Linked DNA regions of Homo sapiens: regions 1, 2 and 3 are each linked to region 4. The links come from fine-mapping of genetic effects on gene expression. A gene starts in region 4. Each other region holds a variant in brackets. All regions are shown on one strand. Distances are between the middles of the regions.

Evidence for each region. PIP is the estimated chance that this variant, and not a neighbour inherited with it, causes the effect.
Region 1: its variant is fine-mapped to the expression of RAMP1 in whole blood (TOPMed, PIP above 0.99).
Region 2: its variant is fine-mapped to the expression of RAMP1 in whole blood (INTERVAL, PIP above 0.99).
Region 3: its variant is fine-mapped to the expression of RAMP1 in esophagus muscle (GTEx, PIP above 0.99).

The regions. Positions count from the first base shown.
Region 1 is chr2:237,895,937-237,901,084 of GRCh38, forward strand. All of the region lies in intron 2 of RAMP1 (receptor activity modifying protein 1), which reads left to right. Among named protein-coding and RNA genes, the nearest start is that of RAMP1, 39 kb to the left of the region's middle. RefSeq lists enhancers at 1-3,019, 2,987-3,036, 3,117-3,226. The variant C/T (reference allele first, on the strand shown) is at 2,871.
Region 2 is chr2:237,903,128-237,908,275 of GRCh38, forward strand. The region is part of intron 2 of RAMP1 (receptor activity modifying protein 1); the gene reads left to right. Among named protein-coding and RNA genes, the nearest start is that of RAMP1, 46 kb to the left of the region's middle. The variant A/G (reference allele first, on the strand shown) is at 2,178.
Region 3 is chr2:237,883,844-237,888,991 of GRCh38, forward strand. The region is part of intron 2 of RAMP1 (receptor activity modifying protein 1); the gene reads left to right. Among named protein-coding and RNA genes, the nearest start is that of RAMP1, 27 kb to the left of the region's middle. The variant C/G (reference allele first, on the strand shown) is at 2,478.
Region 4 is chr2:237,856,640-237,861,787 of GRCh38, forward strand. It overlaps RAMP1 (receptor activity modifying protein 1), which reads left to right and starts at 2,984. Exons shown (of 3, transcript NM_005855.4): 1 at 2,984-3,088. The coding sequence starts at 3,037. RefSeq lists enhancers at 796-1,584, 1,585-2,371.

The DNA.
Region 1 (5,148 bases), 39 kb after region 4:
TGGTCTCAGCCCCATCACACACAGCTGGGCAGCTAGACCTGGGTGTCCCCACAGGGGTGCCAGGACACCTCCCAGGGGTTGTAGTGAGCCCTCAGCACCCGGCCCACAATGGGCACAGCTCAGCGATCTCCCAGCATTCCCTGATCCTCGGACCCTGGGACGCAATGCAACCCCTGCTCAGGCCCAGATGCAGCCAGCATAGGACAGTCTGTGACTTTGCCTGGGACACCCACTGCATTTTAAAACTGCACTTCATTTGGCAGCCCCAGGAGCCAGGGCGCTGCCCAGGCCTGTTCTCAGAGGAGGTATTATGCCCGTCCGCCCGCCTGCTGTGGCTGCTCTGTGGGGAGCCTGACTTGGCAGCTCCCAGGCTGTGTCTGGTGCCAGACCTGGCTGCACATGGAGCCAGGGATGGATTTAGAAACCTCTCGCTTCTCCCAGCATGGGCAGAGGCGCCCAGATTCCTCCCCGGCCTGGGGCCACCATAGCAGGAGAAGGGGAGGGAGGCAGAGGAAGCCAGGCCCAGGGAGGGCCAAGCAGCCCCCAGGCAGACCCCTGGACCGTTCCCCAGTCTGCACTGCCGCCTCAGGGACCTCCCCATCACCTCAGCAAGCGCCCTTTTCTGTAAGGAGGGGGTAAGAACACCTGCCCTCGGGTGATGTGAGAAGCACACTCACGCGGGGAAACAGGTCTTAGTATTTTCTTAGACTTTGTTTTGTTTTGTTTTAAGGCAGGGTCTCACTCTGCCGCCTAGATTGGAATGCAGTTGCATGATCTTAGCTCACTGCAGACTTGACTTCCTGGACTCAAGCAACCCTCTTGACTCAGCCTCCCAAGTAGCCAGGACTATAGGCACACACCACCACTCCTGGCTAACTTTTAAACTTTGTGTAGAGATGGGGGAGTCTCTCTGTGTTGCCCAGACTGGTCTGGAACTCCTGGGCTCAAGCGATCCTCCTGTTTTGGCCTCTCAAAGTGCTGGGGTTGCAGGCGTGAGCCACTGCACCCAGCCTCTTAGACTTTTGGACAGCAGAGGGGCCAGGCCTTTAAATGTCCTGGGGGTGTGATGTGCTGTCCGTGGGGATGGTGGGGTCACCTGCCCCAGCCTCAGTGGGTCCCTCTTTTACATGCCTGCAGCTCACCGGATGCTCCCGTGTGGCACTCAGCTATCATGAGGTGTGCATCCGTCCAGGTGGACCCCAGAGCCCCGCATGCAACCACGGGCCCCGCCTGGGCCTCAGCCTCCATCCCAGGAATGGGAGAACCAGCTTCACTTCAGGCCAGGAAAGAGGGAGACTGAAAGAGCAGATGACATGGGACAGGACAGAGCCTGAGGCCCAGACAGGCCATGAGCGAGGGGAGGTGAGAATAAGGCCACAGGTGGTCCCGTGTCTGCCTTCCCTGCTCAACGTGCAGAGAGGGCTGGCCATTTTCTCCGGCTTCATCAGCATGCTCTACAGTCACTGCGAGTGTTGCAGGAGGAATTGTGGCCTCCTCCACAGCAGCGAGAACACTGAGCCCCGTTTCATCTGTCTTCCTCCTGTTTCCTTGAACCCTCCCAAGATTCTTTCTTTGGTGCGTTATTCATGTTGTTCCTTTTCCTGCAAGAGAGAGGCCTTTGTCCTCCTTGTTCAGCAAGCACCTAGTCAGTGGTAAAGTGCAATATTTAGCTGGTAACAAAGGTGTGGAATGGAATTGGCTTCCATGATTTGGCGAAGTATTTGCAAGAAGCCTATGGTGAGGCTTCTTGTTTACAGATCCACGTGTCTTAGTGGAAACCTCAGAAACACATGCTCTCGTGGATGCTGTCATTCTTCTTTTTTTGTTTGTTTTGGTTTTTTGGGGGGGGGTTTTGTTTTTTGTTTGTTTGTTTGTTTTTTGAGATGGGGTCTCGCTCTTTCTCCCAGGCTGGAGTGCAGTGGTGCAACCTCAGCTCACTGCAACCTCCACCTCCCGAGTTCAAGCCATTCTCCTGCCTCAGCCTCCTGAGTAGATGGGACCACAGGCGTGCACCACCACGCCCAGCTAATTTTTGTATTTTTAGTAGAGACTGGGTTTCACCATGTTGGCCAGGCTGGTCTCAAACTCCTGACCTCAGGTGATCCACCCTCCTCAGCCTCCCACAGTGCTGGGATTGCAGGCGGGAACCACTGTGCCTGGCCAGATGCTGTAATTCTTTGGAAAGGGATGGAGTTGGCATTTCCCCTTATGCTGTTGGGAAAATGGCTTTGCTAAGATGTCAGAAGTCCCTGTTAATACAACTTAAATAGATAAACCATAGTCAGAGCCTGGGGAAAATTCCTGTTTAACATATTCATTTGCATGCAGTGATGACACTTATTTCAAAGCATTCCTGTCTCAGCAATGCAGTAGGTCAAATGTGTAGGCATCCCTGGGCTGGCACAGGTACATAGGACTTCTAATGCTTGGCCTTTTCCCTAGTTTGATTGTACTCTCTGACCAGCCTGATTTAGGAAGGGTTTGATAGTACAATATCCGTCTTTCCCTCACGCGTGCTGCCAGTCCCAGGGGGATGGGAGCAGCCACTCACCCGTAGGAGTTCCAGGTGTGCACAGCTGGCTCAGAGCCTGCTGGCCCAGCACACATTTCCCAGGCCAGCACAGTGTGCTGAAGTGCTTTTCATCAAACAGTTAACAAGACTTCCTTATACATTTCCCCAGTGTCAAGAAAAACAAAAGGTGCCCAGTTCTCTGCTGCCTCCAGCAGTGCTGGGCAGAAGTGAGACAGGAAGCCAGGCTCCCGAGCTCACACACGCAGACGTAGGTGGGAAGCTACACTGCGTGGGCTTTCACATCCCCAGGGCCCGGGCTGAGGCCTCTTAAAGACAAGCTGGCCCTGTGCTTGCTCCA[C/T]ACCTGACGCACGCCAGGCCAGGCCACAGCGTGGCTCTCTGTCAACAGAGGAAGTGGCGCAGTAAGTGGCCAGCCCCTCCCTGCTTTGGAAAGGTCCCGCTATTCACAGAATCCTGGGTGTGAGCCCTGACACCAAAGGCAGAAACCACAAGGGAGAAGCCAGCCCTGGCTGCCTAAATGCGAAATAAGCCTGTTGCTGGCTGCCACGAAAATGCCACTGTGTTCCAGTCCTAAATGGGGTGCATGCTATTGGTTTGAGACAGTGATTTTTTTTTTTTCTTTGAGACTGGGTCACACTCTGTCACCCATGCTGGAGTGCAGTGGCATGATCTCCGCTCGCTGCAACCTCCGCCTCCCGGGTTCAAGCAATTCTCCTGCCTCAGCCTCCTGAGTAGCTGGGACTACAGGCACACGCTGCCACACCCAGCTAATTTTTTGTATTTTAGTAGAGATGGGGTTTCACCGTGTTGCCCAGGCTGGTCGCGAACTCCTGACCTCAGGTGACCCGCCCGCCTCGGCCTCCCAAAGTGCTGAGATTACAGGCGTGAGCCACTGCACCTGGCCGAGAGAGAGATTTTTATCACATGAAGAAAATAGCTTCTTTCTGTGTTTTCAAGGTTGTGGCTTTTTTAAAATCAGAAAAGAATATTGAGTTTTCTCAAATGCCTTCTCAATGCGTATTAAAATGACGGTACATTTTTTTCCCATGGTGTATTAAAGTGTGATTTTGTAGTAACAGGTTTAAAGCATTCCTGAAATTAGCCCTCCTTTAAATAAAATATGCTATGTGGCTAGATGAAGTTTGTTAGCATTGGGTAGGGGACTTGAGTGTCTATTTATAGGTGGAAGCGAAGGGCATCTGTTCCGTCCGTGTGCGCATGCGTTGAGACGCATGTCATGCCATCTCAAGAGGCTTGGGATCAGGGTTTGTTAACTTTTTTAAATGAACTGGGAAGCTGCACATCTTTTTCTTTCACTTTAAGAATTTGCAGTGGCTCACGCCTCCCACACCTGTAATCCCAGCACTTTGGAAGGCCGAGGTGGGAGGATCGCTTGAGCCCAGGAGTTTGAGACCAGCCTGAGCAACATAGTGAGAACCTGTCTCAATTAAAAAGAAAAAAAAAGAATTTGAAAGAACTGCCTGGGATCTAGTGCCTTTTGAAACAGCAATTCTTTAATAACATTTGCCATTTTTCTTCTTGGAATTCCTCCTTTTTAAGTCGATATTTGATAGTTTATAATTTAACCAAAAAGTATCCCAATTCACTGAGGATTTTCCAATTTTTAACAAACCTTTTTTACGTATTAATCTCTTATACTTCTTCTTTTTCTTTTCTGTTTTTTGTTTTTTGTTTATTTGTTTGTTTGTTTAGGACAGTGTCTGGCTCTGTCGCCCAGGCTGGAGTGCAGTGGCACGATCTCGACTCACTGCAACCTCTGCCTCCTGGGTTCACGGCATTCTCGTGCCTCAGCCACTCAAGTTAACTGGGACTACAGGTGTGTGCCACCATGCCTGGCTAATTTTGATATTTTCAGCAGAGATGGGGTTTCGCCATGCTGCCCCGGCTGGTCTTGAACTCCTGAGCTCAAGTGATCTGCCCACCTCGGCCTCCCAAAGTGGTGGTATTACAGGCGTGAGCCACCGCACCTGGCCTATATTGCTTCTAATAATTATTGATGGACAAATTATGTGCCATTTGGAGAGATTTATTTTGTTCTTTTTAAAAAATATCTTGCTTTGGATACTTATTTTGTTTATTTTCATTTATTTTTGTTTAATAAAATAATTTATAACTATTAATTTTTCTCAGAATTCACTTTTGCCCCATTCCATTCATTTGTACATATAGTATTGCCGATCTTGTTCTCTTAATATTTTGTAATTGAATTTTTAAATTCTCCTGTGACTTCGAAATTATATAAATGATCTTTCATTTCTAGGAATTCCATTTTTTTAAATTTATCCTTTTTTTAAAACTAATTTTTAGTTTTCAGTATTGTAGCCTGAGAATATTGACTTATGATTTATACTCTGGGGATTTGATGAGTCTCTTTTTGCCGCCTAACACAGACCCAGGGGCCTTTGAAAAGCCGGCTGAGTCTCTGTAGAATAGAACCTTTATCAGACAGTCACTGCATCGGTTTATTAACATTATTTTTCATAATCACTTTATGCTACTGTTTATCTACCTAGCCTTGGGAGGTGTGTTTAAGTCTCCCACGTGTCTTGCGTTCCTGGCAGCTGCGGGCTGTCTGTACGCTGTGGCGCAGTGCCAGC
Region 2 (5,148 bases), 46 kb after region 4:
GGATCACAGGCATGAGAGCTGTTCTTCTGCCCAGCTTTAGAACATAAATGTTTTTCCACATCTTAAAATTTTCTTCCTAAATATAATTTTAACAGCTACATAATGGAGCCACTCATAAACAATTTCTGTGACCGCTGTCCTGTTGTTTGCTGTTTTTCATAATTATAAATCTGCAGTGGACACCTTCTTACATCACTGTTATCTATATTTCACATTATTAATTTAGGATAATTCCCAGTAATGCAATTACGGGGTCAAGAGGCATCCGTGAGTTTGAGATTATTGATACATATTGCCAAATTGTGTTTCAGAAAAATTGTACCAGTTTATCTTCCCTGAGGATTGCTATGAGTGCCTGCCTCAGTATCCTACACCTTCACTAGCATTCAGCATTATTTTCTTTTTTTTTGAGACAGGGTCTTATTCTGTTGCCCAGGCTGGAGTGCAGTGGCAGGAACATAGCTCACTGCAGCCTCAATCTCCCACCTCCCTGGGCTCATGTGATCCTCTGACCTAAGCCTCCCAACTAGCTGGGACTACAGGTGCATCCCAGCACTGGCAAATGTTTGTTGTTGTTGTTTCTTTAAGACAGAGTCTCGCTCTGTCACCCAGGCTGGAGTGCAGTGGTGCGATCTCCGCTCGCTGCAACCTCCACCTCCCAGGTCCACGCCATTCTCCTGCCTTAGCCTCCCGAGTAGCTGGGACTACAGGCACCCGCCACCACGCCCGGCTAATTTTTTGTATTTTTGGTAGAGTTGGGGTTTCACTGTGTTAGCCATTTTGTATTTTTTTGTAGAGACAAGGTCTCACTATGTTTCCCAGGCTGCTCTCAAACTCCTAGGCTCAAGCAATCCTCCGGCCTAGGCCTCCCCCAGCGTTGGGTTTACACGTGTGAGCCACCACGCCCAGCCTAGCATTCTCCTTTTTAAGAGGAGTGCCATCTGGATGTTTGGTCTTTCATTTCACATGCTTAGTAGTCATTTGTATTTCTAGAAGAAATATTGGGCCGGGCTCAGTGGCTCACGCCTGTAATCCCAGCACTTTGGGAGTCTGAGGCGGGCGGATCACGAGGTCGGGAGATCAAGACCATCCTGGCTAACACGGTGAAACCCCGTCTCTACTAAAAATACAAAAAAAAAAAATAGCCAGGGCGTGGTGGCGGGCACCTGTAGTCCCAGCTACTCGGGAGGCTGAGGCAGGAGAATGGCATGAACCCAGGAAGTGGGGCTTGCAGTGAGCTGAGATCATGCCACTGGACTCCATCCTGGGCAACAGAGCAAGACTCTGTCTCAAAAATAGAATAAAAATCAAAATAAATAAATAAATGAAAGTTAGCCAGGTGTGGTGGTGCACGCCTGTAATCCCAGCTATTCTGGAGGGTGAGGCAAGAGGATCACCTGAGCCCGGGAGGCAGAGGTTGCAGTGAGCCAAGATCGTGCCACTGCACTCCAGCCCGAGCAACAGAGCAAAACGCTGTCTAAAATAATAAATAAATTTTAAAAAGCGAATATAAAGCCAAAAGTGCTTTCCCCTCAGATTTTCTGACAATTTAGACACACATTGCCTGGTCACCTTTTGCTTAAGTATAAACTCAAAAAGGACAAGAAATGTATACGTCATGAGCCAGTCAAGTGAGGACCTGTATCTTTATCTTAATAGGAGACTAAGACTTGAACAAGCGAATGAGGTCTCCAGGATCACTCTGGGTAAGAGGTGGAGCTGGGATTTGAACCCAGGTCTATGGGTGACAGGGCCCAGGCTCAGATATTTCATATTAGGGCCAGCCGGGGGTAGCTGGGGGACAACTGCAACCCAGGGTGTCCCCAGAGTAGATGACTCACCTGTGAGCATCAGTGATCACACTTTCTTACCAGCAAGTAACCATGAACAGTGGTGTCGGGCCTTGACTTGGGACCCAGATATGCTGGAAACTCCCACCATAGGATTCAGGAACATTCCAAGCAAAGTTTGCTTCGAGCCCCAGAATAGAAGGTCCTAGCCAAAAAAGGATAATTACTCAGTGACACGAGAACTGAAACTTTAGGGAGTTAAAGCCAGGGTGTATTTTTCATGACTATTTTGGGTCCTTCAGTCCGTTCTGTGTTCTTTTGGGCAGAAGAATGTCTGTACTCTGAGGGGAATTCTTTTATCACATCCTCACTGACGGAGCTCACAAC[A/G]TTTATTGAAAGTTTCAGCTGTCACTTCTGTATAAATAAACAGGATGAAGTGGGCAGCCGACTGCACATTAGAGATATTTTTAGACGTGGGTGGCACTGCAATCCAGAAGGCTGACATATCAAGGAGAGAGTGCCTGATCCCAGAATAGCCCACCCACACACGGCCCTATCTGCCTCAGCGTGGCCTCGGCGTGGGTTCTGTGGTGGCGTGGCTTCCTGCATCCGCTCCTTCCTGTTCTGTTTGGCCAGTGCAGAGATGGCAATAGCTCCTCCTAAAAATGCCACAGCTCCGCTCCTCAGAGGACAGGGGTCAGTGTTCAGGATCATGTGTCACTGGATCTGCAGAACACCAAAAACTAAACTGCCTGCGGGTTTGGTGGGTCTGAGATATGGGAGAGGATCATCATTCAAAGCAGGCTTCATTGGTCAGATGCAGTGGCTCACGCCTGTAATCCCAGCACTTTGGGAAGCCAAGGAGGGTAGATCACCTGAGGTCAGGAGTTCGAGACCAGCCTGGCCAACATAGTGAAACCCCATCTCTACTAAAAATACAAAAATTAGCCAGGCATGGTGGACCATGTCTGTAGTCCCAGCTACTTAGGAGGCTGAGGCAGGAGAATCGCTTGAACCTGGGAAGCGGAGGTTGCAGTGAGCTGAGATTGTACCACTGCACTCCAGCCTGGGCAACAGAGCAAGACTCTGTCTCAAAAAAAAAAAAAAAAAAAAGGCAGCATTCTCACTGTTTAGCCCTGTAGTTGAGAAGGCTGGACTTGGTTTTCAGCAACAATAACACGTCTAACATTTACCATGGACCGGCCACATAACGTGCACTCATTCGTTTTTCCCCCACGATGAGACTCAAACCGTCACGACTTCATGTGGCTTTTTCCACTTCTGTTTTCTTCTTGAAACATGAGTCCTTGTTCACCTGGAGAGACCACACACCCCAATGCCTACAGGCACGGCACACTCTCTGCTGCCTCTCCCTCCTCATGCCTCATCTACTAGGCCTCTTGGATGGGCTAAGGGAGGCCCTGCACACTCAGGGCAGTGACCTAGAGGGCAGCCAGGAAGGAAAAACAGTGACCGTACGATAGGGGCGGGGGTAGAGGGGTGCTGGGATGCCGGAGAGGCCCCTACTTTTTCTGTATAGCCTCTTAAAGCCCCCAGGGGTCTCCTCACATTTAATTTATGGCCTCTGATCCATTTACTCACTTTCTAGATTAAATATAAGGAAAAGTACCCTTCTATTGTCTTCATTTTCACTGTTTTTGGAGCCCTTCATCTATTTATGTGGATCTCAAACTCTTTCTTATCACTGAAGAACTTTCTTTGACATTTCTTGTAGCACAGGTCTGCTGGCAATGAATTCTCTCAGCTGCTTTTTTCTCAAAAGGTTCTTATATCAACCTCTTTTTTTTTTTTTTTTTTTTTTTTAAAGACAGTCTTGCTCTGTCACCCAGGCTGGAGTGCAATGGCGTGATCTCAACTCACTGCAACCTCCGCCTCCCAGGTTCAAGTAATTCTCCTGCCTCAGCCTCCCGAGTAGCTGGGATTACAGGCATCTGCCACCATGCCCAGCTAATTTTTGTATTTTTAGTAGAGATGAGGTTTCACCATGTTAGCCAGGCTGGTCTCGAACTCCTGACCTCAAGTGATCCGCCTGCCTTGGCCTCCCAAAGTGCTGGAATCACAGGTGTGAGCCAATGTGCCCAGCCTCAACCTCATTTTCAAAAGGTATTTTTTTCTAGGTATAGAATTCCAGGCTGACAAATGTGTTTCCCCTCCCCGCAACCTCTAATACTTTCAAGATGTTGCCCATTGTCTTCCCACATGACAAGCCTCTGATAAGAAATTAAGAAATCTGCTGTAACTCACTGTTCTTCTGTATGTCTTTTTTCCTCTGACCTCAAGATTTTTTCCTTTTTCTTTGGTGCTCAGCAGTTGGAGTTTGATGTGTCTATTTGGTTGTTTGCTGTTGTAGCTGCTTTGTTTTCTGTCCTGCTTGAGGTTCTCCAAGCTTCTTGGATCTGCGATTTTATGTCTTTCATTATTTTTTTAAAAGCCTGAGCCATTATCTCTTCAAATATTTCTTCTGCTCCATTCCCTCTCCTCTTTCTGGGACTCTCACATTATGAGTTGAGGTTGATGTCATTTATAGGATTGTCATGTTACACAGTTCTTGGATGCTCTGGTTTTCCCTCACTTTTTTTTCTCTTTGTGTTCCAGTTTGGTTAATTTCTACTGACATCTTCAATTTCTCTCTTTCCTCAGTTTTCGTGTCTGCTGATGGGCCCATTGAAGGAATTCTCTCTGATGCCATATCTTTTTATTTCTAGCAACTGTCTTTGACTTTGAGTTTTCACTTCTCTGCTTAAATTCTCCATCTGTTCATGCATATTGTCTGCCATTTCCACTAGACCCGTTGTCATACTAGCCATTCTAACATAACTGTCTGATAGTTACAACATCTAGGTCGTCTCTGAGTCTAACTCCATTCATTGTTTTGCCTCTTGACAATGGGTTGGTTGTTTTTTGTTGCTTCTGAACAAAAAATATATAATTTTTATTGAATACTGAACATTCATGTATAGAACAGAGGTGACTACGGTCAATAGTATTTACATATGGAAATGGGTAATCCTCTTCTGTCAGACCGTTAGTGTGGGATTTGAGTCAATCTTGTTAGGAATTGAGCTGGGTTTGGGATTTGTCATTGTTATGGTTATCTTCAATGTACCATAGGCCTCAAGTACCTCTAGCAATGAGCTGTCATTGCCTTGTGCCCAGGGTTGGGACTAGGGCACTGGAGGAGATTCCTCAGTGTGGTGCCCCACCCTCTGCTTTCAGCTTTCTCTTGCCTGCCTGTGCTGCAGCATGGATCTTACCCCACTTTCTCTCGGCAGTAGACAGCTGCTGCTTGTTATTCTACCAAGGTTATGTTCAAGGCTTGGGGTGGGTTCTCTGTGTA
Region 3 (5,148 bases), 27 kb after region 4:
AAAAAAAAAAGAGGCTCCTCCTCTGCACAGGGGTCATTCCTGGGTCCCTGCCCTGGCCTGTAGGTCCACTTTTTTTTTTTTTTTTTTTTTTTTGCGCATTCAGGGTTTGTAGCCACTGCGCTTGCCCTGGGACCTTGGCTGCCCGGCATGGATCTGCACGCAGGTGCTTGCTGGGTTCCGACAGCCCTTGCCCTGACCGTGACCCCACTCCTCCGCTCATCCTGTTGCTTTGTTACCTGGTTGGTGGATTTTGTCAGGTTGTCTGTTGTGAGCAAGGCTTGGGGGTGATTCCTGAGCCCTTTCTAACACGTGTTGGGTGTCTTCCACTCAGCTACATGGAACAGGTCCCTGAAAAGTGGCTGAATGAGCTCAGCGGGGCCAGGCTCCCCTGCAAGCTGGCTGGGCCGTCATTTACCAGGGGTTATCATCTCATTAAGCTGCAGCCTTGGTTTGCTGATGGAGGCATAATGTGATTTAATGTATTAACTGGAGCTACAATCTAATTTGAGGAGGTATAGAAAACCTGGCAAATGTGTCATCGGGAACTCTCATTTCCAGAGACCTTCCTATGGGTGTAGGGGAGGGAGAGAGAAGGCAGAACAGAGAAGAGAAGAATCTGGAACGTGCTGGACTCGGCTATAAAACATGGGTTTTTAAAAGCCTCACGTCAGATTTCCTCACCTAAATAAGAAATGCTCGGTTGATTTAAGAGGGAAGGGGACACGCCTATTCCACCCCACCCTGTATGGCTTCAGGGTCTGAGTGCCATCTTGGGCAGGGGAAAGGTGTCCTCGGGGAAGATGCCAGAGGATGGGGCCACAGCCTTCCCAGCATCTGAGGTCACTGGGCCCCAGAGAACCAGACTTCACTTCCATACCAGCTGGGATGCCTCCGTCCCTCTGCCCTAAAGCTTCCAGGTTTGTAAATACTGACCATGGTAGCCTCAGGTCACCTCAGCTTTGGTTACCCGAGGCTGTCACTGCGGACCCTGCCCTGCCCTGCCGACCCCATGCTGGGCAATCATGGGCCCTCCCCCAGCCCAAGGAGCTGCTCAGAGGACGGGGCTCCAGGCCCCAGGGAGTGGGGCTGCAGCCCAGCGTGGTAGTTGGGGGACGCAAGACAAATGTCTGCAGTGCCTGCTGTGGTACGGCGGCTCAGCATGGCCAGCGCCAGGCATGACGCTCTGGGTCCACACGACGTTGGGCAGGGTGCACCAACACTTTGGGGTCCTTCCCAGCCTGCTGCATTTCCCTCCTGCTGCCTTCTTTGTGTCTCCTGCTAAAAGAGTCAAGTCAGGAAATTCTTCAGAACTCAGCAGCAACATGGGAACAGCTGCTTGTATTTTGAATTTCAGCAGGAACTGAGAGGGAGGCTTCTTCTGAAATCACGAGGGCTGTCTGGGCCAAGGGCAGGGTGTCCTCCTGGATTTCTGCTGAGCTCGACCCCCACGAGGTCTCGGGATGGGCTGTTCACAGAGCCCTGCCCGCCGCCTGCCCCTGCCCGGAGGCCTGGCCCTGGAGCCCACCCACCTCCCTGAGGCCTGTCGTGAGCATCAGGAGCTCCCAGTACAGCATCTGGGGCTGCCTCGGTGCCCTCGTGGGTTTGTTCATGGCGGTGTCCGCCCTGGAACTTGCCACATGCCCACGAGCACTGGGACCCCTCTGTGCTCTCCCTGGTGGCTGTGGTGCTGTCATCCCTGTGTGTGCTGGTGGAATAGCGTGGGCTCCACGGAAAGGCCCTCAGGCGTGGACAGGACAGATGGCAGTGCCCAGCACAGCCAGGTCTCAGAGGATCCAAAGGCGAGCATTGCCCAGGCCGAGGCCGCCCTCCCTGCCTACTGACCTCCCTGCCCACCGCCACACCATCGCTCCTGCCGTGCCCCTCTCTGTGTGTCTGCACCAGGCGTGAAGCCAGTTCTTGTGAGGAAAGCCCTGGCTAGATGTCTGTTCCCCCACCCTCTGCCCCCCCTGGGTGGGAGAATCTTTCCAGGCATCTCCAGAGCACACCCCAGGGGCACGGAAACCCGGCTGCTGACCCCTGACCTCCTGGGGCCTTCAGCACTAATGGCCAGCCCCGCGGGAGGCAGAGGAGCAGGAAGAGCCCCTGGGAGCCGGGTCCTCGAAGACTCCAGGCTATGGCTTACAGAGGAGAAGGGGGCAGAGGAGGAGAGAAGGAGGTGGCTGTGCCAGGAAAGACATGCAGCTCGCGCAGTGACACCAGTCTGGCTCCCCTGAGGACGCCACTCCTGTGGCCTGCGCAGGCATCAGCCGGGGTGCCGGGTCCCCATGGGGACGAGCTGTAGACACAGCTGTCCAGGGCTGGGCAGAGTGGGGCAGTGGCTGGGGATATGCCGGCCCTGCCCAGGCCGCCCCACGGGGGTGTCGTTCCACCTTCCTGTAGTCTCCTTGGCGCGCGTGACCGTGGTTGTGCAGGGAGCGCCTTCTGCTGGTTTTCAGCACTGGAGAAATAAACCAGGG[C/G]TCAGAGTCCTTGGCAGCCGCCCCTGGAATGTGTTCAGGTCAGGGGTTGCCTCACTTAACGTGCGCGCCATGGTGGGTTCTGATGAGGATCCCCAGAGGATCTGATGACACCTGCCTGCTGGGCTGGGGGGCTCTGGAATGGGGAGGAGGAGCCCCATTTCCCTTCTCAGAAAGCTCCAGGAGAAATGCATCTGTGAGGACCCACAGAGAGGAGCCCTCGTGTTGGGGGAGCTTGGAGGCTGGGGCTGGAGCGGGCGACTGCTGGCCTCACCCCTCCACACCCAGGGACCACCTTGTCATCCTCAGCACATCTTTTTCGGAAGTCTTCTGGCCCTGGGGGAAGGCACAGATGGAGAGACCTTCCCCAGACCCTGTGGTGACTTAGCGCGGAGCGTGGCACTGAGCCCACCATGGCGTCTTTCCCATCAGGTGATTAACTGCCTGGTTTCACATCCTCCTGAGTATGGGGATGAAATCAGGCCTGTGCGTCAACGCGAAAGGTCAGACATGCGGTGACGCTAACCAGATCCCGGCAGTGAGTGAAAGGGTGGGCAGGTGGAACACGTCTGGTGGCGGGGGCTCGTCGTAGCTCAGCATCCACCCCCGCCTCCCCTGTGGACACTCGACTACAGCAGCCACACCCCCAGAAAGCCCTAGAACCATCCAGGCTGTGCAGACGGGACTTGGCTGTCCTGGGACACAGGCCAGTTTGTGCACACAGGGCTTCACTGAGCCCCGAAGGCGGCCTCCTGGGCTGCCCATGGGGAAGGGGTGGGGGTGGGGTGGGGGAGAGAGGATGAAGATGTGCCCTTGTGTGTGACACCTCTGGCTGTGGGTCCTGTGTGGGGAGGGCAGTGGGTAGAGGACAGAGCAGATGTCCCCTCCTAATGCTGACCTTCACTCCAGCCCCCAGGCTGGGCCATGGCATCTCCCAGGATCTATCCATTCATCACTCAGATGGTAGACATCTCCCAGGCACAGGCAGGGCCAGCAGCATTCTCAGTCCCCTGTGGGAGGGCCTCCAGGGAGCAGTGGCACCTCACAGCCTTCCCTGTGCATAGTTCGAGGACACCGAGTATCTTGCGGGACCTAAGCACAGGGTGCCCTTTGGGATGCGTCTTGGGACAGGCCTTGGGTCTGAGTCCACTCTTGTTTCAGCTTCTTGTCTCAATCAAAAAATGGAGAATGCACTTTCTGAAAAAGAGACTGAGTTTACCCTCACTGCCCAGGCAGTGGAGGCCGCCTCACTCTAGGGCAGGCCACACTGGCACGCTGTGGTTCCCTACTCCTGCTCGAGTTAAAGCCATTTCCTGGTTTTTGCTATTATAAATGATGGAGCTGGGCACAGTGGCTCACACCTGCAATCCCAGCACTTTGGGAGACCAAGGCATGTGGATCACTTGAGCCCAGGAGTTCGAGACCAGCCTGGGCAACATGGCGAAACCAGGTATCTACAAAAAATGTAAACATTAGCTGAGTGTAATGGGCGCACCTGTAGTCCTAGGGAGGCTGAAGTGGGAGGATCGCCTCGGCCCAGGAGGTTGAGGTTGTGCCACTCCATTCCAGCCCAGGTGACAAAGTGAGACCTTGTCTGAAATAAATGACAACACTATAAGAACTTGTGTACATATATCCTTTGTTTTTTTAAAAAAGATTTTGTTGTTAGACATTCCTGGGAGAAATAATTCATGCAAGTAGGCTTACTGTAGCATGTACCATGAACATTCTGTGGTTCTGGGGGGTTTTTTTTTGAGACAGAATCCTGCTGTGTCGCCCAGGCTGGAGTGCAGTGGCACAATCTCGGCTCACTGCAACTTCTGGCTTCTGGGTTCAAGCGATTCTCCTGCCTCAGCCTCCCGAGTAGCTGGGATTACAGGTGCCTGCCACCATGCCTAGCTAATTTTTTGTATTTTTAGTAGAGACAGGGTTTCACTATGTTGGCCAGGCTGGTCTCAAACTCCTGATCTCAGGTGATCCACCTCCGCCTCTCAAAGTGCTGGAATTACAGGCGTGAGCCACCACGCCCGGCCCATTCTGTGGTTCTTGATAGATTTTTGCCAGTTGTTCCTCTAAAGAATTTTACTAATTTATAATTCTATCAGCAACATATGAAAATGCCTAGTTCCTCATAGGCTCGTGAGTATTGAGTTTGTAGGGATTTTATTTTTGCAGGTCAAAGGAGATTTCCTCTGTAGTTTTAGTTTGCATGTCTTTGGCAATTAGGAAAGTTGAACTGGTCTCTGACAGTTATTTGGAATTTGTTTTTTCTCAAGTGCAAGTTACGTCACCATGACCTTTCCTATTTGTCCTGTGAGTCATTGCCCTTTTTTCCTTTTTTTAAGACTTTATTTTTTAGAGCAGTTTTAGGTTCACAGCAAAATTGAGAGGAAGGTACAGAGATTTCCCATATGCCCATTGGAGGTATTTTTAATCTTCTTTTACAAATTCTTTTTTTTGTTTGTTTGTTTTGAGACGGAGTCTCCCTCTCTTGCCCAGGCTGGAGTGCAGCGGCACAATCTTGGCTCACTGCAACCCCTGCCTCCCGGGTTCAAGTGATTCTCCTACCTCAGCCTCCTGAGTAGCTGGAACTACAGGCACCCGCCACCACGCCCAGCTAATTTTTTGTATTTTTAATAGAGACGGGGTTTCACCATGTTGGCCAGGCTGGTCT
Region 4 (5,148 bases):
ATGCTTTGTTCTTTTATTGTTTTTAAGTTACGGGATGTAATAGCTACTTGGAAATCATTTGCTCCTGTTAGTTCTTGCTTTTAAGTTTTGTTAGGCAGCACCAGAATAGCCTTTGTAATTTTTACTGACTACAGAGAGGGACTTGCCCTTCTAATTATGCTCTGATGTTCTGTGTATTTCAAGATTTTTCCACTATGGTTGGTGGGAACTGGAACTATTCCCAGCTGGGTGTGGGCTCTTAGGCTCTTTTCCCTTGGGTAGTGTCCTTAGATGTGTGGGCTGAGACTCAAGTGGGACCCTCTGTGATCTCGCAAGCGCATTCTTTGCGCAGCTCTTTCCTCTCTGGTACTATGCCCTGCCAGCGTTAACTGCCTGGCTTCCCCAGACTCTCTTTGGGTTTCCTTTCTCCATCTGTGGTCTGCAAACTCCAGGCAGTGAGCAGTTGTAGCACTCACCTTATTTGTTTCCCTGCTCTCAGGGGTCCCTGCACTTCTTGTGGTCCACTGTGACAACTGTTGTTTCATACATTTTGTCCAGTTTTTTAGTTTAAGATGGGAAGGTGAGTCCAGTCCCTGTAACTTCATCTCGGCTGGAAGCAGGAATCTTATGTTAATAGTGAATTTTTAGCAGTGTTGACCAGGCTTTGATTGTATCTTTAGCCCTACTGTGTATGCAGTAAAGCACTTGGCCATTTTCTAATCTCTTCTATTGTTTAACCTAATGCCCCTCTAGATTGAGGTACCCTGGGAGAGGAATGATTTTCCATGCTACCTATGACCAATTAGAAATACAGATACATCAGACTACAACTTTTGAAGACGGGAAGCCCATAGTAGTTGCTAAGGAATGTCTTACTTAGACCCAAGGTACAGACAGGAAAATCATTAGGAGAGAACATGCCTCTAGGTGTGTGCCTTACTTCAGCATTCTCCAGAGAACTGTGAATTTCTAAAGCATGTGAACTTGAGAAATAGGCTTTGTCTTCTTAGGAAAATGTATCCTTTAGGGGGTGTTGAGAAAACAGCAGTGACAGGGGCCTCTGGCCTTGCCTCCTTGCAGTCAAGCTTCAAAGAGAAAACGTTGGGAAGAAAGACTCCTGCTGAGCCTGATGAAAGAGGAGTCCCAGTTGCCAACCAAAAACATGCAGCCAAAGTCCACAAGCTACAAGTAGAAAGGGTGGCTCAAGCCAGAGTCCCTGGATATGGAGGGCGAGTGATGGCTGCAGAAAGATGCAGGTTCTTCTCCCCCACTATGACTGGCCATCGCCTAGTGCAGGATGTACGGTGGCCCTGTCCCAGGGCTGTGCTGGCAGCCACCCTTCCCCACTAGCTGTGCTGCTCTCACATGGCACGGCCTCTGGCTGCCAGGCCTGTGCTCGGGCCTGCATTTCCCTTGTGCCCTTCTCTCCACCCAGCCCTCAGGACTGCCTGGGCTGCATTTTGTCCAGAATCCTTTGTCTCCTTACTTGCACTGCAGCTGAGGCGAGTGTCCCTTGTTCCGGGTGGCTCCTGTATTGTGGCGCTCATGTTATTGAGAGTCTTAGAGGTCACCCCCTAGATTCACCAATTGAAGGGCAGGGCTTGTCGATCTAACAGTGTCTTGCACATAGGGACACAAATGTCTGTTAAATGAAGAAAGTAGGGATGCCAGGCCACCCAATGGGGTGTATCTCCTAGGGTTCAAGAACAAGGGCTAATCAAGTCAAGAGAATGTGTGCCCTCCCCCACCATCTCACCCCTCACTCTCAGAACACTTGGGGCCCCTGCACAGGTGGTAGGCATGCTGGCCCTGAGTGCCCTCCCAGCCTGTGTTAGAAGAACCAGTGGATGACCTCGCTGTCAGCTGTCTCCCCTTCTCTGAGCTTACTGCAGGTGGCAGCAGCCTCTCAGCCACAGACTGTTCCCTTTCCTAGGAGAAAACGATGGTCACTCAGCAATGCTGTGCGCTTGCAGCTTCCACCACAAAAGAGACAGCTGTGGCCGCAGCACCAGGGTGGTGATTCTTCCCCCTCCAAGGGCAGTGGTGCATTCCTTAGCACAAGTATAAATTTACTGTTGCTAAGAGTTCTCGGAACAGGATAATACAAGAAGGAACCACTGCAAGTGAAATCCAGCCACCAGTAATGCCGAGAGGCCAGGCCTGTGCCTCCCAAAACCTGCTCCTCCGCAGGCTTCCCCGGCCCATCTCCAGAGCGCCCTCCTCTCACCACTTTACATAAACGAATGTACCCAAGATCCCCCATCAGTTTTCCATGCAGCTGCCAGAGTGCCACCAAAGCAAACCTCATCTCAAGACTCTGTGGCCAGGCCCTCACAACCTCCTGCCAGGCTCTCGCTACCTACCCATCAACAGCAAGACTCCCAGGCCATCTCAATCCCCCCAAAGAGCCCTGTTCCTCCAGCCCCACGGCTTCTGTTCACCTGCCGTGCTGTCCCCGCCTCTGCCCACCCACTCATCCTGCAGATCTGGAGCAGCATTCCAGGGCCTGGTAAGTGTGCGCCATTTTGGGTTACTACGGGTCTCGCCAGGCGCGGTGGCGAGTTTTGCCCCCCACGCTCCCCAGCGCCTGCACCTGGGCGGAGAGGTAGATAAGGCTGGGAGATCTTAGCCTTTTGCAAGGCAAACACCAGGCAGGAACGCCCAGAACCTCGGAGGAGGAGGAGGGGAAGATCCCCAGGTGGAGACCAAGGTGCCCCTCACGCTGAGTCGTCTAGGAGACCCTCCCTAGTTTAAAAAGTGTTTATTTGCTCGGAGAACATTTCAGGAGGCCTTCCTGGGACCCCAAGTGTGCCGCCCCCCGGGAGGGGCCTGGAGACGCCCGCGCGGCCCCCCTGCAAAGTTTTACCGGCCCTGGGCGCCCCCGGCCCTGGCACCCACGCGGGGAGCCGCAGTGGGCCGGGCCGCGCGGCCGCCGCCTCCCACCGCTCCCGCGCCCGCTCCCGCCCCCGGCGCGTCTCCTCCGGGCCCGCGCCGCGGCGGGCTCAGTCCTCAGCGGGGCGCGTGGCGAGCGGACTCGACTCGGCACCGCTGTGCACCATGGCCCGGGCCCTGTGCCGCCTCCCGCGGCGCGGCCTCTGGCTGCTCCTGGGTGAGTAGGTCCAGGGGTCCCGGCCGAGCTCCCTTCCCCTGGCCAGCCGGTGTCCTCTAGGGGAGAGGAGGGGAGCGGGTGGGAGCGGGTGGGAGCGGGTGGGGGCGGGCGCCGCGGGCGCACAGATCCGCTGCCCTTGAACGCGGGCCGCCCCGGTTCCAGGCGGGAGGCCCCAGGGCACAGGGGAGGCGGAGGGCGCGGACCGGTGTTGCGCTTCTCGCCGGGGAAGGGACGGCTTTGGGGACGTCGGAGAGCGGGCATTCTGGAAAGCGTGGGGTGAGTCAGCCCTGCACACTGGAGAACTAGTTTTCAGAAGGAAAAACAGGACGCGGGGTTCCCCAGCCCCGCACCTCGTTTCTCAGGCTGTGCGCCGCGGTGACTGCCAGCGCAGGCTCCCTTCCCTAGGCCGTCCCGCGTTGCAAAACCTGCAGACGGGCACCTTGCAGAAGACGCAGTGTTCGGGAATCAGAACCACAGCCGGTTTGTATGGAAATTAGTCAACACTGACAATCTGTCGCCTGCAGCAGTTGCTTGTTTGCAAATCACGTCTTTTGCAGAAATGAGGCCAGCCCTTTTCGGGACACTTCCATCGCTTTTTTTCTTTTTTCTTTTGGTTTGCTTGTTAACTTGGCACTTTTGGCTAATAGAAATTTAAAGAAGGACGGGTCCCTTGGTGAAGTGGTGGAACACGTTTGGCTTTCCACTTGGAGGGAGAAGTGGAGATTAGCGGCAGCCTCATGGCCACAGGAACTGGCCACACACTCGGCAAGAAACGGTGCTGTTCACTTCCCTTGTCTGTAATGTGTTCCTAAAATGCTAACTCAAGCCCCTTCTAAACCGCTTTGGCTATTGCATTATTCCGTGTATTTAGCTACCTTTTAACGGAAACTGTGAATAGGTTACTGGCGTGGGAGAACCCAGTGTCCCTGGGAAGGCCGGAGCAGTTGTTTCTGGTATGTGTGGCCTTTCCCCGGAAACAGTGATGTTGGTCAGAGGCACCTGCCGCACAAGACCTCTTTGGCGCTGGCACTGGGCAAGCAGGGACCACCGGCGCTGTTGTAGCTGGGGGAGTGGTTCGTGGCCCAGCGAGGAGAGGGGCCAGGGCTTCTTGGGAGCCATGGATTTCTGTTCCCTATTTGTAAACCTCTCCAAGGGGTGGCAGATCTGCATAGAATCCTCAGAGGCCGATATAATATAATCTGAAAGCGGATCTTGCCACTTTAGAGTTTTGGCTGAAGTTACGTGGAAAGCAGAATCTCGCAGTAATTTTATTCTCTCCATTTGGCTTGACATGGCCTTCACTGTTTTCATTTACTAAGAAACAAACATTTCTTTGTTAGCAAGGCAGAGAGCTGGGTTGTGGAATATTTTTTACATAAATAACCAAATAAATAAACGTTCTTTACTAGTGTCCAGAGGCTGAACCCTCTAAAGCTTGTGTAAATAAAACACTATGTCACGATCACATATAAAGACCTTCCTTGTTTACCGAGAAAACTATTCATGTTCTGCCGAAAGTCCAAAGTCCTGTAATTTTAACGTTATTTTGAGTGGCCTGGCTAATGTTATCTCTTGGAAGAACAAACAAAACTTTATGAGGTTATCAGTAAATTAATGTCATTGGAGCCCAGCTGTAATTAGTAGAATTACTGAGCACAGGCTGTTTCCTTCCCAAGCTGTAGCACTAGCCAGGTCTCCTTGGTGATGAAGATTTTGCTACCAAGAATGGCAATGTGGAATTTTTTTAAGTACTCTAGTTTACAGGTTTAAGAACTTATCTGTGACAATTTTACAATCAAGCTATTTGTCTTAGGTAGTTATTAAGAATCTCATAATCCGGCCAGGCATGGTGACTCACGCCTGTAATCCCAGCACTTTGGGAGGCTGAGGTGGGTGAATCGCCTGAGGTGAGGAATTCAAGACCAGCCTGGCCAACATGGTGAAACCCCGTCTCTACTAAAAATACAAAAAAAATTAGGCAGGCATGGTGGCAGGCACCTATAATCCCGGCTACTTGGGAGGCTGAGGCAGGAGAATCGCTTGAACTCAGAAGGCAGAGG